Homo sapiens: one gene and its partners. The protein of the gene in region 1 purifies or fractionates together with the protein of each later gene. This does not show direct contact. Each region holds a gene or a part of one and is shown in the gene's direction. Other genes may lie near its edges.

Region 1 (5,475 bases):
TTCCTACCTTACTAATTTTTTTTTTGGAGATATGATCTCACTCTGCTGCCTAGGCTGGAGTGCAATGTGGTGCCATCTCAGCTCACTGCAACCTCCACCTCCCTGGCTCAAGCGATCCTTCCACCTCAGCTTCCCAAGTAGCTGGGATTACAGGCGTGTGCCAGCACACCCAGCTGTAGGAGTGAATTGACAGGGCATTTGTAGAGGAGATTTTGGTATCTGGGAAAGCAAATAAGCTCCTCATCAAAGGGTACCTTCCAACTCTGAGGTACTATAGAGGGCCCAGGTGTACTTGAGAAATGAGCAGAGAGGATGTCAAGAAAAAACTTATAAGCAGAAAACTTACAAAATGGGAGGTGCCAGACGGCCTTAGGGGACTTCCATAGTTGTCTCTGGTAGTTGGCAGTGACTAGATAGCCAGGAAGATAATTGAGAGATCGTGGGACAGTACTGGGATATGGGAAAAAGGGACATTCTGATCATCCCCTCATTTCTTCCTTTGACCCTAAAGAGACATATGAGCGGCTCGAGGCTGATAAAAAGAAGCAGGTTCATAAGAAGCGGAAGTGCCCCGGGCCCATAATCACCTATCATTCAGTGACAGTGCCACTTGTTGGGGAGCCAGGCCCCAAGGAAGAGAACGTTGACATAGAAGGGTGAGTGAATCTCAAGAGGAAAAGAGATTGTGTGTTCAGCTCATGTTCTCTTGGCCCCATTTTGCTTGCTTTTCTCACACAGCTCTCCTTAACACTTGGAGATTTCTTTCAGATTCCTAACTCCCTTCAGCTCAATTTCTTTTTCTTTTTTTTTTTTTGAGACATGATGCTGCTCTGTCACCTAGGCTGGAATGCAGTGGTGCAGTCTCGGCTCACTGCAACCTCCACCTCCTGTGCTCAGGCGATCCTCCCACCTTAGCCTCCCAAGTAGCTGGGAGTACAGCCACACATGCTAATTTTTGTATTTTTTGTAGAGACGGTTTCGCTGTGTTGCCCAGACTCCTGGGTTAAAGTAATCGTCCCGCTTCATCTTCCTAAAATACTGGGATTACAGGTGTGAGCCACCGCGCCCAGCCCAGCTTATTTCTTTCTTATTCCTTTTTCTTTTAGCTTCTCTGTTCTTCTCTTTCCTGTTTTTCCTTCTAGCCTAGCTTTCTTTTCCCATCAGTCACTTAGTACGTTCCTCAGAATGTTCCCAACACCCTGCCTCCTTTTTCTCTTTCCTCATCTCTCTGATTTCCTTCTTTCTTTCTTTTCTTTTTTTTTTTTTTTTGAGATGGAGTCTCGCTGCTCTGTCACCCAGGCTGGAGTGTAATGGCACGATCTTGGTTCCATGCAACCTCCGCCTCCTGGCTTCAAGTGATTCTCCTGCCTCAACCTCCTGAGTAGCTGTGATTACAGGCATCCGCCACCACGCCCGGCTAATTTTTGTATTTTTAGTAGAGACAGGGTTTCACCTTGTTAGTCAGGCTGGTCTCGAACTCCTGACCTCGTCATCTGCCTGCCTCAGCCTCCCAAAGTGCTGGAATTACAGGTGTGAGCCACTGCACCCAGCCTGATTTCCTTCTTTCTGTATCTGTTGTCTTCTCTCCTCAGCTCTTTGTGTTTTTCCTTGTCTTTTGTCCTCAGACTTGATCCTGCTCCCTCGGTGTCTGCATTGACTCCTCATGCTGGGACTGGACCCGTCAACCCCCCTGCTCGCTGCTCACGTACCTTCATCACTTTTAGTGATGATGCAACTTTCGAGGAATGGTTCCCCCAAGGGCGGCCCCCAAAAGTCCCTGTTCGTGAGGTCTGTCCAGTGACCCATCGTCCAGCCCTATACCGGGACCCTGTTACAGACATACCCTATGCCACTGCTCGAGCCTTCAAGATCATTCGTGAGGCTTACAAGAAGTACATTACTGCCCATGGACTGCCGCCCACTGCCTCAGCCCTGGGCCCCGGCCCGCCACCTCCTGAGCCCCTCCCTGGCTCTGGGCCCCGAGCCTTGCGCCAGAAAATTGTCATTAAATGAAGAGATGTCTAGTCCTCAGAAACTTCTTTCCTGCCCTGATTGGGGCTCTTGCTGTTCCGTTTCTTCTCCCTGCTTCTCCCCTTTGTCATCTCTGATCTTTGCCTAATCTGTTTCTTTTTCCTTTTCCCCTAGTTCTTACAGGTTTCGTTGTGTTTTTTAATCTAATAAAATAGAAAGATCCCTTTTGTCTGGTGTCCAGTCTAGGGTTGGGAGCAAGAAGTATTTGAATACCTGCATATATTTGGGTCTTTATTCGATAGCATTTATTATGAGCTGTCCTTTCTAAATTGTATTCATTCCTCCAACTAAATTATAAACATCTGAAAATTGCACACCAAAACACATCCTTGTATTGACCTTCCTATCACTTTACACTCACTGTTTTGAATACAGCAGGCACCAAATAAGGAGGAACTGGCTGATTCTAGTCGAACTCATATGTCTCAGACTGGGGCTTGTATGAAGGGAAGTGGAAGAGATGCCATGGCTGTTAATGACCACTAGAGGCTCTCAGGGCTGGGCAGGGTATGGGGGCTGTGTATATGTGATCTCCCACTACCCCCCACCTGGCCAGAGCTAAAATAATAAAATGCTGAGCTCACTGTTCCCCCACCCTCTCCCCCGGCACCGGGCTCCTCCTGCTGCTGGGACAGTGCTCTAGTAGAACAGACAGACCTACTGACACAGGGGAGGTGAGAAGGGAGGTGACCACCAGGACTGGTAGGTGGGGAAGACAGGGGGCTTATGGATGAGAGCCCGGTGGGAGATGGGAGGAGAAGAGTGGCTCCTATGGGGAATGATGTGGAGTGTGTCCCTGTCTCTGTCACTCAGTGTATATTTCTGCCACTGTGCCGTCCTACCCCTTAACTGTGTATAGTTTACATTGTCGATGTGTCTCACATACTTTCTGGATCTTTCATATTCAGCATGGTGTGTATGCATAGCTCCTTATGCGTATCTTATATTGTACAAAATTGTGCGAGTTTAATATTCCCACTGTTTTTAAAGAAACTTTACCCTATTTACACCCATTGGTCTGGTGTCACCTTCCTGTCCAAAGCAAGGGACAGATTATGGGGACTCACAGAGGCCTTACTACCCTTCCCCCAACCTGGAAGTCCCCCAACTGCTCCGAGCCCTTGCTTTCCCTTAAGACTTCAAATTTTAGCAAACACAGAAAGTGAAATCTTGATCCCCCACAATAAAAGGGAAATGAGGATGGGGTAAGAGACTCTCTCTTCCCCTTACACCTCATTGTCCTTGGTTTTTTTATCCGGTTTAGGAAAAAGCCTGGATTATGAGGAGGAGAGGAGGAATTTCCCTGAAGCTCTCTATTCCCCCACCCCTCATCCCCTTTCAATAGGAACTGGGCATAGGACCAGCTGTGTTGGCAGGGCTTCCAGCAGCTGTGTTAGGGCGAAGGCACTGACAAGTGAGGTTATAGGGGAGGGGTGCTGCCAGGATTTCTCTGTCATACCGTGGGAAGACAAACCCAGCTTAGATGTCTGGGATCCCCATCCAGAGTGGCTGGAAGCTGGGGAAGCAGAAAGGAGACTCTAGTTCTAACTCTAAACAACCTAATCTTCCCCACTTCCCATCCTCAACTAGACTTCTAATCTCCAAGAAATCCAATCCAATGTTCTGCCCCCCTGGCTGGTCTCTTTGTGTCCCTGCTGTGTCCCTGTCCATCTTACCATTGTCCATCCTTTTGTCCCATGTTGCCCAGGCTCTGTGAGTACCACACAGTGGGGAGGGGGTGGGGGCCACCATGTCATCATATCAGAAGGAACTGGAGAAATACAGAGACATAGATGAAGATGAGATCCTAAGGACCTTGAGCCCCGAGGAGCTAGAGCAGCTGGACTGCGAACTACAGGAGATGGATCCTGAGGTAGGGGCTCCAGCACAGGGAACCAGAGGCAGTCCCAGGCATTTGGGAAGGGTGTTGGGCTCTGGGTGGCTGAGAATAGGGTTTGCTACAGGACCTAGGGTCCTAAGAAGGCCAGGGGAAAGGTGTCCGGTGATGTTTTAGGGAGCCCTAGCAGTACCTAGGTCAGAGGGGAGGTCTGACTTGCTCCCCAAAACTCATCCCTAAGAACATGCTCCTGCCAGCTGGACTAAGACAACGTGACCAGACAAAGAAGAGCCCAACGGGGCCACTGGACCGAGAGGCCCTTTTGCAGTACTTGGAGCAACAGGCACTAGAAGTCAAAGAGCGTGATGACTTGGTGCCCTTCACAGGCGAGAAGAAGGGTATGGGGACCCTGACATCCATGCCTCGTAGAACCCAAGTGGCTGTGCTGTCTCTCACTCGTCCCCACTCCAGTTTCCCTCTCACCTTCCAGCTCCTAGTTGCCTAGGGACTCAGATGCCCTGACACTTAAATGCGAGCTTGCACTCTTCAGTTCTTTTTTTTTTCTTTTTGTTTGAGACGGAGTCTCACTCTGTTGCCCAGGCTGGAGTGCAGTGGTGCAGTCTCGGCTCACTGCAAGCTCCACCTCCCGGGTTCACGCCATTCTCCTGCCTCAGCCCCCCGAGTAGCTGGGACTACAGGCGCCCACCACCACGCCCGGCTAATTTTTTAGTATTTTTAGTAGAGATGGGGTTTCACTGTGTTAGCCAGGATGGTCTCGATCTCCTGACCTCGTGATCTGCCCGCCTTAGCCTCCCAAAGTGCTGGGATTACAGGCATGAGCCACCGTGCCCGGCCGCTAATTTTTTGTATTTTTAGTAGAGATGGGGTTTCACCATGTTAGCCAGGATGGTCTCGATCTCCTGACCTCATGATCCACCCGCCTCGGCCTCCCCAAGTGCTGGGATTACAGGCGTGAGCCACAGCGCCCAGCCCCGCACTCTTCAGTTCTTGAGAGATCAGGGGGCTAAGGACTCTTGAGTTTGTAGAGGACTCAGGCTTTCCAGTGTCCCTTCGTGACGCAGCATTCTACCTCCTGGAGGAGGAAGGAAACCTGGAGGCCAGGATCTTGGGAGAAATTACCTCTACCTGAGCCATCCTTCATCTCCCCATCAGGGAAACCCTATATTCAGCCCAAGAGGGAAATCCCAGCAGAGGAGCAGATCACCCTGGAGCCTGAGCTGGAGGAGGCACTGGCACATGCCACAGATGCTGAAATGTGTGACATTGCAGGTGGGTAGCTGTGGGAAGTTGAGGGTGAGAGGATCAGGGGCAGGTGGATTCTAGCCATGACATGGGACTAGTGAGGAAGGCCCTCAACCAGAATGTGGATGTCTAAGAAAGCGTCAAGCAGTAGTTTCAAGCTTTTCTTGTTTGTTTATATATTTATTCATTTTTAAATTTAATAACACCTCAAGAGCAATTTTACAGGGATTGTAAGAGCAAATAAAAGTGGAATCATTGGGCCAGGCACCATGACTCACACCTGTAACCTCAGCACTTGGGAGGCCTGAGTGCACTTGGGAGCACTCAGGATTGCCTGAGCTCGG
Region 2 (4,774 bases), on another chromosome or scaffold:
TCAACATTTTCTCTATCACTTTCTTCAGTTTAAGCAATCAACAAAACCACCGCTCCAGCACTGATTTGTAGCATTTGCGGGTTTCCCCCGTGTGACTTCCGCAGGACTGCCAAGTTCAAGCCGCCAGGGCCAGGGCACTGCTAGCAGCTGGGCTGAGCCCTGTTCTCCCGGCGTTCCCACCGCCCAGTGGCAATAGCTGTGAACGGCGGCAGGAGCATGGCAGTGGAACAATAAGGAAAAGATCTTTTAAAAAAAAGATATAATACAGAAGCCAAGCAAGGCGGCCCCGACCTGTAACCCCAGCACTCTGGGAGGCAGAGGCGGGCGGGCGGATCGCTTGAGCCCAGGAGTTTGAGACCAGCCTGGCCAACATAGGAAGGCCTCGTCAAAAAGACAAAAGGGTAAAACGAATTTAATAAAATGAAGTTTAACTTTTACTCATGTTTGTATCTAATGACAAGCTTTTAAAACTGAAAAGTTCACTACTGGCTCCTGCCTGGCGGCTCCAGCCCGACTGGGGGCCGGGGCCTCCCTGCACTGTGGGGTCACGAGTGCCCCTGGACAGCTCCCGAGCGCCCTCCGACCCGCATGCTCAGCGCAGCCCCGTCGGCGGCGCGCCACGGGCAGAGCGGGCTCAGCGGGGGACGGAAGCTCAGCGCTGCGACCGGGATCCCGCAGGCTCGCTCCGCAGGGCCGCGGCTCCTCTCCGTGCAGGTGCTGGGCCCGCGGGGGCGGGGCGTCCACACGGTCCGCGCCGAGACCCAAGCGGGGAAAAAGCGAAGAGCGGACAGCGGGGCAGGTGCCACAGGGAGCCTCCGCCCCACCGCGCGAGCAGCAAGTCTGCGGCGCTTGACACCTGCACTGCGAATGCCAGGCCGCAGCCCGGGCTCCCAAGACGCGAATACGCGCGCCTGCTCGTGACGTCATTTTTTGCGGTCTTCCCGAGAGCCAGCAGAGGGCGCCGCCATGATGTTTTACGGAAGCCGATAGTCCTTGCTCAGCGGCACCCCGTCCTTCCGGCTCTCGGCTTTGCCACAAAGCTTCCCGAAGACGCGGCCGCTACCCGGAGACGCGGTCGCCACCCAGAAGCGCTCTCCCGGGAAGCCCCGCTCGTGGGACCGCGCCACCTGCGCCGCCTCTGCGGCCCGCAGCCCGACGGGCGCCGCCATGTTGGGGTCCTAGCGAGGGACGCGTAGGTGTCTTCATAAGATGCCGGGGCAGCGGCGCGCGCTTTCCCCCAAGATGGCGTCCATGCGGGAGAGCGACACGGGCCTGTGGCTGCACAACAAGCTGGGGGCCACGGACGAGCTGTGGGCGCCGCCCAGCATCGCGTCCCTGCTCACGGCCGCGGTCATCGACAACATCCGTCTCTGCTTCCATGGCCTCTCGTCGGCAGTGAAGCTCAAGTTGCTACTCGGGACGCTGCACCTCCCGCGCCGCACGGTGGACGAGGTAAGGCAGGCGTGGCGCCCCGCGGCCCCCAGATTCCCAACCTTCCCACCTCCGACCCGCACACCCAACTCCGGACCCTCCTCGCTCCCTCCCCCAACCTTCCCATCCCCCTTCAGACTGTTAACCCCCCCGGCCCGCCCTCACGCCCCCTCCTCGCTCCTCCGAATACCTCCCTCCAGTCCTCACCTCCCCCTGGGTCCTCATCCCCCGCCTCGATCCTCATCTCCCACCTCGGTTCTCATCCCCACCGTGGGTCTTCAGGACCCCCCGCCCCTCCTCGCCCCCTGGGAATCCCCCACTAGGGTCCTCACCTCCCTACTTTTCGTCCTCACCCCTACCCAAGTTTTCACCTCCCCTGGGATCCTCAATCTCCTCCCCGCCGGGCCCCGGGTTCTCGCTACGACCCCCAGGTCCTCACTCCCCTCCCTGGGCCCCCGGGTACTCATCCCCACCCGCCCCCGCCTCCCCCGCCTTCGGTCCTCACCACCCTAATCCCCCACCGTGCCGAAGCGACCGACTCTTGGAGCGGGGGTGCGCCGGCCCCAGCGGGGTCTCCCATCGGGGTTTCCCGTCGGGGACGCAGCCCTGGTGACCTGGGCGAGGGCGGGGATCCCGAGAGAAACCCCCGCGTGAGGAAGGGGCGGCCTGGGCTCGGTAGCTCCAGTGTCCGCTGACTGGATTTTCTTGTTCTCACCTCGCAAAGACCCCGGCCGTCCGGAGCGCTCTGTGTCCGTTTTACTCTTTTCTACACGCCGTTTTGCGTCATTCCAATAAGTGGGTGTGTGAGGTTTGTTTTCTTTTTTCCTAAACTTTATATTGTATCGCTTTCCGTGCGAAATAAACCGAGTAGTTTTGCAGACTATTGAAGCCCCATGGTTGTTTAAACGTTCCTGGCTACTGATGTATTATTAGCTATTATAGGTTGTAATTGCTTTTGATTGAGATATGACATGTATGGAAAAGTGCATTTTTGTTCAGTTTAACGAATAATAATAGCATCGCGAGCCACTCCTGTGATCCTTACACAGGTGGAGAAGTAGAACCATGCCTGTTCCTTGGAAGCCTCCCACTGGTAATCACGGCCTTCTTCCTTTCCCCTTCCTCATTTTGGAAAGGTAATCATTTCTGTGCCATCTCCCCGGTGTGAGCAATTATTTATGCACCCCTAAATGGCACAGCTTGGTTGCCGGATTTGGAGTTAGTGTGATGGTATCATAGTGTATTTTGTGTGTGGCGTGCATGTGTCTTTTTGGTCGACGCCGTGACAGTTTCATCCACGTTGCAGCTGACTGCAGTTTAATTTTCACTGCTGCGTGGTATTCCTGTCTGTGAGCACGAGGCACTTTATCCATTCTGCCACAGTGACACGCTTAGCTTTTGTGCTCTTGTAAATCATCCCGTTACTACATTACGGTCATATGTTCAGGTGTTTGGAATCTTGGATTTCTCTAGGGTATAACATCTAGGAGTGGAATTGTGAGGATCATAGGATCATGCCAAATTATTTTTCAGAGTGTTTTGTTTTTGTGTTTGTGTTTTGTTTGAGACAGGGTCTGGCGCTGTCAACCAGGCTGGAGTGCAGTGGCACCATCGTGACTCACTGCAGCCTTGACCTCCTCACCTCAGATCTTCCCATCTCAGCCTCCTGAGTAGCTGGGACTACAGGGTTTCACCATGCTGCCCAGGCTGGTCTTGAACTCCTGACCTCAAGCAATCTGCTTGCCTCAGCCTCCTGAAGGGCTGGGATTACAGGTGTGAGCCATGGCACTCGGCCTGCTGTTTGGTTTTCTGCTTTGAGAATTGTATATTCAAATCTGCTTTTAAATTCTCTTTTTTCCCATTGTTTTGTAAGAGTGTCTTTTTTATTATTTATTATAAATGCTAGATATCAGTCCTTTTTCAGTTACAAATATCTCCCAGTTGTCCTTTGACTTTGACTTAGCTTCCTGGAATCCTTTTTTTTTTTTTTTTTTTTTTTTTTGAGACAGCGTCTCACTCTGTCACCCAGGCTAGAGTCTAGTGGTATAATCATAGCTCACTTTAACCTTGAACTCCTGGGCTTAAGCAGTCCTCCCTCCTAAACCTCTGTAGTAGCTGGGACTGATGCGCTGCCACCACGCCTGGCTAATTTTTGTGCATGTGTATGGAGATGGGGGTCTTACTGTATTGCCCAGGCTGGTCTTGAACTCCTAGCCTCAAGTGATCCTCCTGCCTTGGCCTCCCATAGTGTTGGGATTACAGGTGTGATCTGTGCGCCCAGCCCTTTTCCTGGAATCATGGATGAATAGAAGCTCCTAGTTTTAACATAGATGGTGTATTCATCCGCCCACTATCATTGGTGCCTATTGTGTCTCCCCGAGGGACATGCCCGGAACACTCCCTGGGTTATCTTGGCGTAGCTGTACAGTTTTACCTTTCGCACTTGAATCTTCAGTCTGCGTGGAATTGATGATTGTGTGAAGCAGGGAGTCTAATTTTCCACATGGATGTGCAATTAGTCCAGCACCCAACGTTGATTGAAATGACTGTCCTTTTCCATTGATCTGCACTGCAGCTTCTGCTGTGGATGTGTTTCTGGGCTGTGCTCTGTTCTTTTGGTCATTTACATATCGATGTGCTAATAACCCACTAAGTCGGTTCTTGTCACTTTATTTATAAGCCTTGTTAGCGGACGGAGCAAACCCTCCCACTGTATCTTTCTCCGGGATCATCTATGGCTATTCTTGTCCCTTCACACTTCCACATGTATCTTATATACTTACTTCTTAAACACGTAGAGCCTGCCTGCTGGGATTTTAAGGCTGAGCTGAACTTGCAGTTCATTCTGGGGTGCTGTCCTCTTTATATTGCATCCTATAATTTGTGGGTGTGGGCTTATCTATTTAGATGTTCTTTGTGATCTCTGTAGGGGTCTTCCATCTCATATATTACCACCTATTTCATATTTTTCCATGCCGTTGTAAATGGTATCTGTTAAAGTCTTAGTTTTTACTTGTTGCTGGTATATAGAAATGCGTTGATTTTTGTTTTTGTTTGTTTGTTTGTTTGTTTGTTTTTTAGACGGAGATCTCACTCTCTCACCCAGGCTGGAGAGCAGTGGCGCGATCTCAGCTCACTGCAACCTCCTCCTCCTGAGCTCAGGTGATTCTCCTACCTTAGCTTCCCGAGTAACTGGGATTACAGGCATGCACCACCACACCTGGCTAATTTTTGTATTTTTAGTAGAGATGGGGTTTCACCATGTTGGCCAGGCTGCTCTCGAACTCCTGACCTCAGGTGAGCCACTATGCCCAGCCTGATTTTTGGATAATGAATTTGTGAC
Region 3 (4,247 bases), on another chromosome or scaffold:
CTGTAGTTTCTTTGATTCCCACACAACTTTGCAGTTAGGGTGAACTTATTCTTCACAAACAATTCTTATCCTTAGGGCTTTGCACAGTTTTTTTCTTCTGGAATATGCATCTCCACAGCCTCCATTCTCCCTATACACAAAGAGACCCCTTTTCACCTGGCCAATTTCTAATCCTAAGCCTCCCCCTAATATAGGTTGGGCCTCCTTTTATTTACCCTCACACTGCCCTGTGGTACACAGCACATTCCATTCCTTATGTGTCACAGAGCATCAGCATCACCTGAGGGACTAAGAAATGTAACTCCTAGGCTCTGCTTCAGAAATTGATGCATTTTATCTGGGCTAGAATCAAGCATATTTAGAAAACCAAGAACAACTTGGGTGATTCCAATGCACTGTGAGCATGGAGAACCACTGTGTTGTTGTGATCACCTGTTTTCTATGCAGCCCTCAGGGAAGTGCAAACCTGTGAGATCAGGCACCATTATCTGTCTTGGACTTTGTATTCCCAGTTCCTAGCCCAGTGCCTGGTATGCAGAGGGAGCTCATATTTTTTGAAAGAATGTGTGAAGAGACCTGCCTCTGGGAGTCAGGAATGTGACAATTGGGAAATCCAGCAACAATACCTGCTTTTCCAGTACCTTTCTCCTAAAAGTTACTGGATCCTACAGATCTTAGTGGGCGTATACTTGGTGTTAGAAGAATAGAAATCTTTCTAATTCCCTTCCTTTTCCCCATTTTGCAATTGTGGGTTGGCTGAAGAAAAGAAGACAACATGGGAAAGGAAAATCTGGGTGATAAACGGATTAAACCTTTAGGTTACCGCTGCTCTAGATAAACCCATGATGTGACTTTTTGTTTTTCTCCTAGGTCAGCTGAGGGAACAGCTCAGTTACCTTAAGGGTGATAATTTTTTTAGGTTTACTTGTTCGGATTGCTCAGCAGATGGCAAGGAGCAGTATGAAAGGCTGAAGCTGACATGGCAGCAAGTGAGTAAAAAGCCCTTCCCCAAATCCATGAGGGTGGTTCCCCCAGGAGTTTGTTGGAACGAATATCTAGAAACTTAGGGATGAGCTTTTGAGTTGTTTGGAGGGGCACTTTTTATTTCGCAATGAAATTAGATACCGAATATGTGGAGAAGGGAGTGAAAAATACTCGCTGTAATCCCAGCACTCTGGGAGGCCAAGGCGGGCAGATCACCTGAGGTCAGGACTTCGAGACCAGCCTGGCCAACATGGTGAAACCCCATTTCCATTGAAAATACAAAAATTAGCTGGCTATGGTGGTGGGCCCCTGTAATCCCAACTACCTGGGAGACTGAGGCAGGAGAATCGCTTGAACCTGGGAGGCGGAGGCTGCAGTGAGCCCACACCGTGCCACTGTACTCCAGCTTGGGCGACAAAGTGTGACTCCTTTTCAAAAAAAAAAAAATATATTCACTGCTGACTTGGTGAATTGGGCTTGAGAGGCTTGAGAATCTCATGATTTCTTTTATATGTGATACCAAGCTCTGATTATAATTGAAAATGAAATTCTCATTTTCCTGGCAGCCATTTTAAGAACAATAAAACTATTTTTTTAAAGTGGAAAGATGGCTATGTTGAAAATAGATTTGGAAGAAGGAAGGTGACTGATTGCAAAAACCAACATAACCCAGCTTTTCTGCATTTGAACTCGGAGATGTTTGAATTTTTGTTTGCTGAAATACTTGTTCCTTTTTAACTGTCTCTAATATCAGCACCCTAATCTAAGTCAGCTGTATCCTAAACAATAGCTTTTTGCTGATCTCCAGGTTGTATTAAATTGTTTTAGTTTTGTTTCTATGTCAATATGTTAATGTATAATATGAATAATAAGGCATCAGTGTATACTTTTTAGTTCAAAAACCAGATGAAACCAGACATGGTGGCTCACATCTGTAATCCCAGCACTTTGGGAGGCGGAGGCGGCCAGATCACCTGAGCTCAGGAGACAAGCCTGGGCAACGTGGTGAAACCCCGACTCTATAAAAAACAGGCCAGGCGCGGTGGCTCATGCCTGTAATCCCAGCACTTTGGGAGGCTGAGGGAGGCAGATCACCTGAGGTCGGGAGTTCGAGACCAGCCTGACCAACATGGAGAAACACCGTCTCTACTAAAAATACAAAATTAGCTGGGTGCGGTGGCACATGCCTGTAATCCCAGCTACTTGGGAGGCTGAGGCAGGAGAATTGCTTGAACCCAGGAGGCGGAGGTTGCAGTGAGCCGAGATCGCGCCACTGCACTACAGCCTAGGCAACAAGAGTGAAAGTCCATCTCAAAAAAAACCAAAAAAACAAAACAATACAAAAATTAGCTGAATGTGGTGGTGGTGCACTCCTGTGGTCCCAGCTTCTCAGGAGACTGATGTGGGAGGGTTGCTTGAGCCTGGGAGGTTGAGGCTGCAATGAGCTGTGATCGAGCCACTGTACTCCAGCCTGGGTGGTGACAGAGTGAGACCCCATCTCAAAAAAAAAAAAATTATATATTACTTAGTTTTTATGTTCATTCATTCATTCAACAGATACTGAGTACCTGTTATGAACCAGGTGCTGTTCTAGGCCTGAGACTACTGTGGTGAACGAGACAGCTAAGGCCTCTGCCCCAAGACAGCTGACATTCTATACTTAATTTTGATAATAAACAGATCAACAAGATAATTACCCACAGCACTTTTTACTTTGAAGGAAATAGAGTAATGAGAAAGATTTTAAATTACACCATTTTAGCCACTTATGGTGTTCCTTGTAAATTGTAGTTGCCTTAGCAGCCTTCGTCTATTATCTTAATTATCAGTGCTTTATTAGGACAGCTGATGAAATCTGTCAGTGTTGAATTAGGAAGCCTTTTCTTTGACTTGCCTGAAAAAAATGTAAGTAGAAAATGAAGAGAAGTTTGTATTGAGGATAGAGCCTTATGAATATTATAACTGGGACATTTTTCTCAAGTGTACATGGGATACTGTGTGTAGGCAAGATCTTATTAATAGATTATTGTGATATGTGCACACAGGTAGATTTGTATTTGTCCTGCAAGTTGTTTCTCATAAAAGCTGTAAAATGGAAGAAGAGCAAATATATGTAAATTTTCAAAAATGTGAGTTTTCTGTAGTGGTTCTTTTTAAAAGAAAAGCTGGCTTTTGCTTATTTTGCTCAGAGTATGTAATATTGGCTCACTTTGCATATTTATTTATTCTTTTTAAAAAAAAATTTTAAATCTTTTTGAGGCACAGTCTCACTCTGTTGCTCAGGCTGGAGTGCAGTGGCACAATCTCGGCTCACTGCAACCTCCGCCTCCCAGGTTCAAGCAATCCTCCTGCCTCAGCCCCTCTAGTAGCTGGGATTACAGGCATGTGCCACCATGCCTGGCTAATTTTTTGTATTTTTAGTAGAGATGGGGTTTTGCCATGTTGGCCAGGCTGGTCTCGAACTCCTGACCTCAGGTGATCCACCCACCTCGGCATCCCAAAGTGCTGGGATTACAGGCGTGAGCCACCGTGCCCGGCCACTTTGCATATTTAATTAGACTAACATAACTTGCAGATTATTTTTTCACTTCCAAAATACGTATTGATGGTGGATACTAACCTGGTAGGGTGAAGTGATAACTTAGGTTGCACATATGTGGTTCTTAGCAAACAACTGACCAGTATTTCTAGTTGCATCTGAAAAAGCCCATCTCTCACTGAAGACCTGAAAGAGAATCAGTTGGTCTTGAATGGACTCCATTGATGTAGCCACATTCTTAGTATATTGAAATGTGGGTTTTCCGTCTTTAAATTTTAAACTTTGAAAGATTTACCAAAGAAATATGTAGAAATGCTTGTAACACAAATAGCATTTTGTTTGTATTATAAAATACTTACAGTAAAGAGGTCTGATCTCCTGATTAAAAAGCCCCTTCTTGCCACACTCCCTTTCTGTGTCCTCTCCTCTTCCTTGGTGACTCCTGTGAATAGCAGTTCCATACGTAGGAGAAACTTTATCAAACATTTGGGAAGGATAGGGAAGTTTTTGCATTCTTTTCCTGGAGACTCATTCTTATGGCACAAGTAAAGATACTATGATCGATCTTTGCTTGTTATTTTTCTAGTGTTCTTCAGCATATACTGAGTACCTGCCAGCTCTGAGCTAGGCCCTGTGGATACATTGGTCCACAAGATCAGCCTCATTACTGATGAGCTTGGTCTGGTAACATGAGAGCAGAAAACTAAACTGGGGTTCATTTTTT
Region 4 (4,247 bases), on another chromosome or scaffold:
TTTAATGTTCTCGTCATCTCAGATTGTGAACGTTTTCCCAATTTATTTTTAGAGCCTAGATTCAGATTTATCAGATGGACCAGTCACTGTACAGGAATTTATGGAGGTCAAAAACGCTCTAGTGGCTTCTGAGGCCAAGATACAGCAGCTAATGAAGGTGAATAACAACTTGAGTGACGAGCTGAGAATTATGCAGAAAAAGGTAACATGTTAATAAATGCCAGGACGGTTGACGCTTTAATCCCATAGTACAAGGAAGAATCTCAGGCACTGTGATGTGGTCCGAGGAAAGAAAAACAGTTATTGTAACAGCCTTAGAAATCTTTGGGCCAAGTTGTCTTTTTGAAGCAGGATGTATTTGGATATTTAAAATGAAATATATCCAGAGTAAGTTCCCCAGGTAGGAGAAACCTAACATCTATTTAAGCATTTGTGCCCATTAGAATAACCCTTGGACTATTCTGTGCTTCCTGGAAACCTGGATGGGGCTCCATGGATGTGATTCTTCCCATTGCTAGGGAAGGATGATCACACCATGGAGACAGAGCCAATGAGAGCCCTGGGCAGGGGCATGTTTATCAGCATTCAAACCCTGCTCCCACCCTGGCAGCCCTATCCCACATCCCCACCTTATTGCTCACCAGTTTTTACTACTAACTTGTATTATCCCCAGAGCCTACAGGAGGGCCTGCCACAGAGTAGGTGCTCAAAAAATAAGAAAAAACATTTCATTTGTACTAGGAAGAGCTGCACACTGGTAAAAAACAATCTCATTTGCTCAGCATTTTCTCATTCATTACCTTTTGAGAGAATCAGAACCGTGTGAATATATTAATCCCTAAAAGGAGTGTGGTTGATGGTAGCAAGGAATACCCTTAGTAGGAGGGGGATTGTGTATGCAACTCCTTATGAGATGGCTAAATAAGGGAATTCGAAAAATTGCAAATTTTGCCCATGACTTTGTGGGTATCACTCATCATTCAGCTCTAAAATGAGATTTGGACACTTTACTTAACCAGAAACAAAATGAAATATATAATCTATGTCTTTAGGCTGTCATTTGAGAAGTAAGGTTTTCAAATCATTTTCAAGACCTGAGGACGTGGCACACTCCATGTGTGCCTGGACTCTTTTCAGTGCTGCTTCCTAAAGGAAGGTGGAAGAACTAAAAAGGGGCCCATGCCCCTCTGTTTACTAGGGAAGGAAATTGCTGTGCACTTTTGCCTGGGGTTTGGTCTAGGATTCTTTTGATGTTGACTTCTAGAGCATTTTTGAGACTTTTTGAAATAAATGGCTCTAATGCCTATAGTAGCAGGGAATGAAGAATGCTTAAGATCAGCTAGCCTTAAACGAACAGACACTTGTTCTGTGTCTCCCAGCCCTGTCTAGGGCTGCCGTGCAGCTGTAAACGAGACAGACCGAGAGCCCCTTTGTCATAACATACAGGACCTGTATTTTCTTTGCCTTCTTTGGAATATATTTTATTTAGTGGATTATAGTTTGTTCCATTAATTGGACTAATAATTTTGACCAGGTGACTATTTCTGAAACATGCTGATTTTGCCACTGTAAATCAATCTGCTGCACATCACCTTTTAAAATCTAACAATGCTTCTTTTAGTATTTTTGGAAATCACCAGAGAGAGCCTCATTATCTCTGAAAGCAAATGTCTTGAGCTTCTTTGAGAAATGCAAAGTGAAATTATTTGCTTTTGCTTATTGATTATCTCATCAATTCTTAGAAGTGCTTTTGATTTCTGAAACTATTGAATTGTCTATAACTTTTTATTTTCCCTTATACTCCTTCCAAATAAAAAAGTGTAGCCTGGTTCTTATTAAGATAAACGTCATTAAAATTTATGTGAAGACATCTCTCTAAATACAGAGTACTAACATTTTTAAAAATTGAAACCAAGAACTTGTGCTCATGAGAACACATTCAGACAAAATCCAGGCATGAAAAGTGTTAGGATAAAGTTTCAGATTTCAAGGCCTTAACTAAATAACTGCCACAGAGGCTTTTTATACAGACAAACACGTGATCACATGCACCAGTGCCCCATTGAGGGACCTGTGTCAGTTACACACCTCAGTCCTTGAACCTTGACCATTTCACTCTAGGCCCTGGGTTCTCTAATGAATAGTTTCAACAGGCACTTCATGCCTGTCTGTATCCTGGAATGTAGAAATGTTCAGGGCTGCTTTGTCAGCTGCTTTGCAGCTGTTCTTTCCCTGGAAAGGGAATTGCAGATATGAGCTATACCCTGCCAGCCTTTGTGATATAAAAGCATTCTATCATTCTGTAATGGCTTGCTCTTCAGAGAAACAGAATGAGTGGTCTTTTTGTGGAAGAGGCAGTAAGTCACACTTTCACAGCAGTTTGGCATGATTAATATAAAGTATATGGAATTTGTTTATTTAGCAAAGATGTATTGATTATATTTCAAAGTTGGGTAAAGTTTTTAATATACATAAAGTTGACAAAGTAGCATGATTTGTATCTGATCTTTCACATTTAACAGTTGCTTGGAAAAGATGCTAATTAATGAAGAGGAGCAACTACTATTGGTGTATTTTTCACAGATTGGTGCTTTCTAAATAAAAATTGAAAGTAACTCCTAACATTGAATGGGTTTGCTACTGAAAAAGTAATGATCTTCTGGTGCAAACAGTTGCTTGTGGACTTAAACCTTGGCACTGGTGGGGAATTTGGTCAGATTTTACAATCTCTGTCAAAGAGTAGACAGCTGAACTCACACCACACCCAGCTTATAGAATGTCCATGGAAGATGAAGGCGCACCAGAAGGGAAGGACCCTGCGCAGAATGGACGTGGTGAATGGTGTTTAAAATGCCAGATGCCAAAGAGTAACACGATTCCCTGCTGACCCCTTAACTCTAATCCATCCAGCACCATGGAGCAGCCTGCATGTGAGGAATGGAAGGAGCATTCAGGGCCTCCAAGTGACAGTCTCTAAAATGGGGTGGTGCCAGGCAGATTAGCATGTTCAAAGCTGACACCACTGAGGTCGTGTTTTTTGGGTGACAAAGCCAAAGGAGAGAAAGGCCAAATATTCCAGCCCTGGCCGAAAGATGATCACTCACCAGACGGAAGCAAGCGTGCTGCGTGGAGCATCCATGCGAAGATGTCAATTCCATAGATCAATAGGTTTCCAGTTTTCTTCGTGATATGTTAATATAGCAAACTTACCATGATCCGGTTTTCTCTTTTTTCTTTTTTTTTTTACAAAGTGCTGAATTGTTTGGAATATCAAGAGTATTATGTAATAAAAACTTGTTGATCATAATTTTTCTTGTTGGCTTTTTGGAAAGCAATAGGCGATCTGATTTTTCACAAGCTGAACTTCTGTCTTTCTTGCTTTGCAAAGCAACCCTAGTCATCTTTGTGCTGCTTCCATGGTGTCTGCTGTCATTTTTGGCCTTTACAAATTGCTCAGGGCTCATTTGAAAAGCAAGTTACCTAAATGATGTTTTAATGATCTCGAACTCTTGCTTGAAACAGCCTTAGTAATAATCCAGTGTACAGCTTGCCTGCAAACATTTCCCAGCCCCACCATGACAAATTTTAAAGTGGTTAGACATTTTGTTTTGAGGAAGTCCAAACCACAACTTTTCCACATTCAGAAATGAAGCTATTTAATTTGCTTACGTGATGAAGGGAGTTGATTGTGTTTCACCCAATCCAGAAGAAAGGGTCCTTGTTTGTATTGGCTTTTTACTTTCAGCCCGGCTAGCTGTTACTGTCCTTATTGTTTAAAACTGGTAGTTGTATTCATTTACTTGGTGTTTGCTTTTTCTGCTTGCTGTAAAAAAACACAGTCCCACTGCCAAACATTTCTTTCAGCTTCAAACACTCCAGAGTGAAAATTCGAACCTCAGGAAACAGGCCACAACCAATGTATATCAGGTGCAAACTGGTTCTGAGTACACAGACACTTCCAACCACTCTTCCTTAAAGAGACGTCCGTCTGCCCGGGGCAGTAGGCCCATGTCCATGTACGAGACCGGATCAGGTCAGAAACCATATCTCCCAATGGGAGAAGCGAGCCGCCCCGAAGAGAGCAGGATGAGACTCCAGCCCTTCCCCGCGCACGTAAGTAACACCACTGGCGCTTCTGCTGTTCACTCTATGCAGCCTGTCTACTCTGTTCCCTCTTCTGAACCTACAGGTCCCCACAGCTCTGCTTTGCCAAATTGGACTAAGAGAGTTACCATTGTGTTTGCTGT

Evidence for each region. Proteins that work in one complex are often made in the same cells at the same time.
Region 2: the proteins of TMOD4 (region 1) and NELFA purify together in Homo sapiens (affinity purification with mass spectrometry; 2 studies listed by BioGRID and IntAct, with this or other methods). This does not show direct contact.
Region 3: the proteins of TMOD4 (region 1) and KAT14 purify together in Homo sapiens (affinity purification with mass spectrometry; 2 studies listed by BioGRID and IntAct, with this or other methods). This does not show direct contact.
Region 4: the proteins of TMOD4 (region 1) and GIT2 purify together in Homo sapiens (affinity purification with mass spectrometry; 2 studies listed by BioGRID and IntAct, with this or other methods). This does not show direct contact.

The regions. Positions count from the first base shown.
Region 1 is NC_000001.11:151,173,182-151,178,656, reverse strand, and holds the start of TMOD4 (tropomodulin-4), read left to right. Parts: upstream 1-2,675; 5' UTR 2,676-2,733; exon of another isoform or gene 2,734-3,739; 5' UTR 3,740-3,781; coding exon 3,782-3,904; intron 3,905-4,109; coding exon 4,110-4,266; intron 4,267-5,041; coding exon 5,042-5,158; intron 5,159-5,475. Other genes in the region: VPS72 (vacuolar protein sorting-associated protein 72 homolog), read left to right, coding at 512-656, 1,593-2,013. UniProt on the Homo sapiens protein: Blocks the elongation and depolymerization of the actin filaments at the pointed end. The Tmod/TM complex contributes to the formation of the short actin protofilament, which in turn defines the geometry of the membrane skeleton.
Region 2 is NC_000004.12:2,005,428-2,010,201, reverse strand, and holds the start of NELFA (negative elongation factor A), read left to right. Parts: upstream 1-1,227; 5' UTR 1,228-1,242; coding exon 1,243-1,452; intron 1,453-2,155; coding exon of another isoform or gene 2,156-2,239; intron 2,240-4,774. Other genes in the region: uncharacterized protein LOC124900839, read left to right, coding at 441-1,196. UniProt on the Homo sapiens protein: Essential component of the NELF complex, a complex that negatively regulates the elongation of transcription by RNA polymerase II.
Region 3 is NC_000020.11:18,144,363-18,148,609, forward strand, and holds part of KAT14 (cysteine-rich protein 2-binding protein), read left to right. Parts: intron 1-736; exon of another isoform or gene 737-870; coding exon 871-989; intron 990-4,247. UniProt on the Homo sapiens protein: Component of the ATAC complex, a complex with histone acetyltransferase activity on histones H3 and H4. May function as a scaffold for the ATAC complex to promote ATAC complex stability. Has also weak histone acetyltransferase activity toward histone H4.
Region 4 is NC_000012.12:109,947,122-109,951,368, reverse strand, and holds part of GIT2 (ARF GTPase-activating protein GIT2), read left to right. Parts: intron 1-52; coding exon 53-202; intron 203-2,522; coding exon of another isoform or gene 2,523-2,546; exon of another isoform or gene 2,547-3,864; coding exon 3,865-4,113; intron 4,114-4,247. UniProt on the Homo sapiens protein: GTPase-activating protein for ADP ribosylation factor family members, including ARF1.